Linked DNA regions of Homo sapiens: region 2 is linked to region 1. The links come from fine-mapping of genetic effects on gene expression. Tissue or cell type: tibial artery. Region 1 holds a variant in brackets; the other region holds the start of a gene. All regions are shown on one strand. Distances are between the middles of the regions.

Region 1 (2,756 bases):
ACCTGCCACCCGCCCATCTGCAACTGGCAGTTTAAAAGACACCTCATTCTTGACATGACTCATACTGGAAACATCATCTTCCCCTCAAACCTGTTCCCCCTCTTTTCCCTGTAAGTGCTGGGCACTACCATTCACCAATCACCCAAGCCAAGGATCTAGGAGTCATTTGTAACTTTACCCTTGCTTCCTCGTTCAAGAACAATCCCCGAGACTTCTCAATTCTGCCTCCCAAACATTATAAAAATAAAAACCTTCTCTCTACCTACCAGCTGGATTCAGGCCAACATCAGGGTGTGATAGATTAAAAACGACCACAACTTCTTTGTAGCTCTTCCCATCAAGGCTGGCTTTGTAACTTGTTTTGACCAATAGAATGCAGCAGGAGTGACATCGTGGGACTTCTGAGTTTAAGCTTCAAAAGGCCTTGCAGTTTCTGCTCCCATCCTCTTGGCACACTGCCAGCATGGGAAGAGGACCAGGCTAGTCTGTTTCAGAGACATGGCCCATCCAATAGCTAGCACCAAATGCCAGCCATGTGAGTGACTGTTGCCCATGCTGGAGTGCAGTGGTGCGATCTCGGCTCACTGCAACCTCCGCCTCCTTGGTTCAAGCGATTCTCCTGCCTCAGCCTCCTAAGTAGCTGGGATTACAGGTGCGTGCCCCCACATCCCGGCTGATTCTCGTATTTTTAGTAGAGACGGGGTTTCACCATGTTGGTCAGGCTGGTCTCGAACTCCTGACCTCATGATCCGCCCGCCTCAGCCTCCCAAAGTGCTGGGATTACAGGTGTGAGCCACTGCGCCCGCCTCAGTGTTATAATCTTATGGGACCACCAGGTACATGCAGTCCATCATTGATCAAAATGTTATTATGCAGCATACGACTTTATCCTCAGCTTAGAGGCCATCTCCCTCTCTGCCCCCAAGTCTTCCCTACCCATTCCTCCCCTTCTCCAGACTGGGTTAACTATTCTTCTTCTGTGCTTCCAAAGCCCCCACACTTTACACCACATAGTATAACTTTTCATTTACTTCTCTCTCTCACTCAACTGCAAGCAACAGAGGCAGTGACTGAGTCTCATTTACACTTGTATTGTTGGTGTCTAACCCAGGGTCTGGCACAGCACTGCAACAGAACTTTCAACAATTATGGAAATGTTCTATACCTGCATTGTCTAATACATCAGCCACTAGCCCTACTAGCTATTGAGCACTTGAAATGTAGCTAGTGCAACTGAAGAACTGAATTTTACATGTTATTTATTTTAATTAATTTAAATTTAAATAGCCACATGGGCCTAGTGGCTATGGTATTGAACAGTGTAGGGCTAGCACAGAGTAGATGGCCATTGAATATTTTTGAACAAAGATTACAAGGGAAAGACAGTCATGACAGACCGTTAGGACATGATAGAATGCTATGGGTATAAGCAACATAATTTCATATCGACCTCTCCTGGCTCCTCACTTCACATCCCCTCAACTTTACACTACCAGTGCCTTTGTCTTAGTCCATTTTGTGCTGCTGTAACAGAATACTACAGACTGGGTAATTTATTATGAACAGAAATGTATTTGGCTCATGGTTCTGGAGACTGGGAAGTC[C/T]AAGATCGAGAGGCTGCATCTGGTGAGAGCCTTCTTGCTGCATTATGACATGGTGGAAGACATCACATGGTGAGAATGCAGGAGTAGTGAGGGAAGGGGACAAACCTATCCTTCTATCAGGAACCCACTCCCACAATAACATCATTAATCCATGCACGAGATCAGAGCCCTCATGATCTAATCACCTCTTAAAGGTCCCATCTCTCAACACTGTTACAAGGGGAATTCAGTTTCCAGCACATGAACTTTGGGGGACATGTTCAAACCACGGCAGCCTGTGGCTCTGCCTTATTTAAATATAATCCTAGTTTTTGGCTCTTTATGGCCTGAGTTGGTTGTTCTCTCCTGGACTTGCCCAGATTGATAACACCCCTTCTGTGACATGGGCTGGTCTGAAGAGCCCTCTGGAGAAGAGAGCTGTTCTCATCTAGTTTAGTCTGGCCTGAGCAGAGAGCACTCTGTCATTGGGAGGCTTGGACTTCATCATAGAGGACCCATGTGATCTGAATTTGTCTGCATGGCAGGCTGCCAAATCCCTCTTAAAAGTGACAGTTAAAGCTGGCTGTACTGTGAAAACACCCCAGGAGGAAAAGAAGCCACAGTATTGGTAGTCTTATTGCTGTTCCTGGAAACCATGCAAACCCCAGTCAGATGACTTCCAGCCCTGGCACCAGAGATATTGGATCAGTGTCTGAGAAGGAAGGAGGAATGGACACAGGCCCAGGCAGAAGGGGGCTGGGCTGGGCCAGGCCAGGGCCCCACCAGGCAGGCAGAAAAGGCTGGGCCTGACACCGAGGAGCAGGCCTGAGGGAAAGTAAAGGCTAGGGAAGAATAGTCCTTTCCAAAAGACTTTCCAAAATGTTCATTAAAATAAAAAGTTTAGGCCAGGCCTGGTGGCTCACACCTGTAATCTCAACAATTTGGGAGGTTAAGGTGGGAGGATCACTTGAGGCCAGGAATTTGAGACCGGTCTGGGCAACATAAAAAGACTCAGGTCTCTACAGAAGTTTTTTTTGTTTTATTTTTATTTTTATTTTTTTTTGAGACGGAGTCTCGCTCTATCGCCCAGGCTGGAGTGCAGTGGTGCAATCTCGTCTCACTGCAAGCTCTGCCTCCCGGATTGATGCCATTCTCCTGCCTCAGACTCCCGAG
Region 2 (2,621 bases), 34 kb after region 1:
ACACAGCAGGCTGTCTGTCTCTAGCCCTCTCTGAACCCCAACTTTTCCATCTTTACTGGAGGTAATAACACTGGCCTAGGAGGAGAGCTGATGAGAGAACTGACTCAAGGCACAAGAAACAAGTGACTCAGCCTGCTATCCAGAGGCTGGTGCAGCTTCTTTCCCCAGACAGAGCTGATCCCAGACAAGGCCGTCCCCTTGAAACCTGAGGGGCCAGAGTTCAAAGTACGGCTAAGTTGATACTTAGGGAAGGGCGTCACTGGTAAATCTGGGGGAGCCTTGGAGGAAGTTTGTCCAGGAAATGAATTAAGGAGACTCATCCAAAGATCCTCTCATTTTGCAGGTGGGTAGACAGAGACCCAGTGAGGGGCAGTAATTTACCCCCAAATCACACAGGGAGTCACATTGGCACAGCTAAGACTAGAGCAGAGGGCTCTGGCTCCTGACCCACGGCTTTTTTTTTTTTTTTTTTTTTTTTTTGAGGCGGAGTTTCGTTCTTGTTGCCCAGGCTGAAGTGCAATGGCGCGATCTCGGCTCACTGCAACCTCCGCCTCCCAGGTTCAAGCGATTCTCCTGCCTCAGCCTCCCAAGTAGCTGGGATTACAGGCATGCGCCACCATCCCCGGCTCCTTTTTTTTTTGTATTTTTAGTAGAGACGGGGTTTCTCCATGTTGGCCAGGCTGGTCTCGAACTCCCGACCTCAGCCTCCCAAAGTGTTAGGATTACAGGCGTGAGCCACTATACCCGGCCGGCTTTTTTTCTTTTTTTTTTTTTTTGAGACAGAGTCTCACTCTGTCACCCAGGTGTACAGTGGTGCGATCTCGGCTCACTGCAACTTCCGCCTCCCGGATTCAAGCGATTCTCCTTCCTTAGCCTCCAGAGTAGCTGGGACTACAGGCGCGCGCCACCACACCTGGCTAATTTTTGTATTTTTAGTGGAGACGGGGTTTCAACTATGTTAGCCAGGCTGGTCTCGAACTCCCGAACTCGTGATCCTCCCCCGCCCCACCCCGCCCCCCGGCCTCCCAAAGTGCTGGGATTACGGTAAAGGCGTGAGCCACCGCGCCCGGCAGGGCTTTTTCGATTTCTAAAACCGCGGGTTTGGGGCTCTGCGCTGCAGGCACGAACTGCTCACCTTTTCTCCCCACCTCCAGGGCTCGGGAAAGGCGAAGTCCAGGAGCCCGGACCTGACGCAGAATGTCTATAGCTGCCGTCGGCAGCGTGAGCTGGGGCGGCGGTCCTAGGGGCCTTGGCCGCGGCCGACCCCTTGGGTCCCCTTCTCAGCTGTAGGGCGTCCACGGCTCCGGGCCGGTTCCTGGGCCCAGGACCCACCTGACTCACAAGGAAGCAGATTGAAAACGCAGCCGCAAGGCCCGCGAGCTCGGGCGGAGGTGCGCAAGCGCCGGGCGGTGGGGCGGGGATCGCGCGGGCCGCCCCTCCCTACCATCCCGACCCGCCTCTGTCCCCGCCCCGTCCCCGCCCTTATCCCCCTCACCTTCGCCCTCTCCCGCCCCATCTCCCGTCGCCCTCGCCGTCCCCTCTCCCTCCTTCGTCTCACTGTGCACCTCTCTGCGCCCCTGTCACCCGCCTTCACTGCGCGCCTCCGTTACCCTGCACCATCTACGCCCCTTATTCCCTCCCCGCACCCTCTGAGGTTCCCCAGCCCGCACCCTTCCGCTCCGCAGCCCCCGTTACCAGCACCTTCTCCGCCCTGTCTGCGCACCCCCTGCCCGCCACACCGCCGCTCCTCACCGCTGTCTCCGCTCCCCATCCCCAACCCCGGCTCCTGGCCTCCTTTGGATCGGGAAACCCCCGAGAAGTACCCAGGTTGAGTGGGAGGAGGGGAGTTGGGACCCAGCCTGGCTTGCTTAGTGTTGTGTGAACCTGGGCAAGGCCCAGCCCCTCTCTGGTCTCAGGGTCCCCAGTTGGTATTGGAGGGAATTGCTTTCAGTTGGAAACTTGTTAAATCCAAGATAACTTGGTGAGGGTAGAGTCCGCTGCAGTAACCTGCTTTTTTATTCTTTCTCTTTTTTTTTTTTTGAGACGGAGTCTCCCTCTGTCGCTCAGGCTGGAGTGCAGTGGCGCGATAGCCCACTGCAACCCCCGCCTCCCAGTTTCTTGCGATTCTCCTGCCTCAGACTCCCCAGTAGCTGGGATTACAGGTGTGTGCCACCACACCCAACTAATTTTTGTATTTTTAGTAGAGACAGGGTTTCGCCGTGTTGGCCTGGCTAGTCTTGAACTCCTGACCTCAGGTGATCCGCCCACCTCAGCCTCCCAAAGTGCTGGGATTACAGGCATGAGCCACCGCACCTGGCCTCTTTTTGTTTTTAAGAACCCTGTGGTACCATCCTGGCTAACACGGTGAAACCCTGTCTCTGCTAAAAATACAAAAAATTAGCCGGGCATGGTGGCAGGTGCCTGTAGTCCCAGCTACTCGGGAGGCTGAGGCAGGAGAATGGCATGAACCCGGGAGGCGGAGCTTACAGTGAGCCAAGATTCTGCCACTGCACAATATTTGCCTGGGCAAAGAGCGAGACTGTGTCCCCAAAAAAAAAAAAAAAAAAAAAGATCCCTGTGGTAAGAGCCTGGAATCCTAACCACTAGACCACCAGGGAGCT

What was found. PIP is the estimated chance that this variant, and not a neighbour inherited with it, causes the effect.
Region 2: it holds the start of HDHD3, and the variant in region 1 is fine-mapped to the expression of HDHD3 in tibial artery (GTEx, PIP 0.92).

The regions. Positions count from the first base shown.
Region 1 is chr9:113,341,828-113,344,583 of GRCh38, forward strand. No RefSeq gene overlaps it. Among named protein-coding and RNA genes, the nearest start is that of WDR31, 2.9 kb to the left of the region's middle. The variant C/T (reference allele first, on the strand shown) is at 1,605.
Region 2 is chr9:113,375,594-113,378,214 of GRCh38, forward strand. HDHD3 (haloacid dehalogenase like hydrolase domain containing 3) reads right to left here and starts at 1,393. Exons shown (of 3, transcript NM_001304509.2): 1 at 1,136-1,393. RefSeq lists a silencer at 1,245-1,764.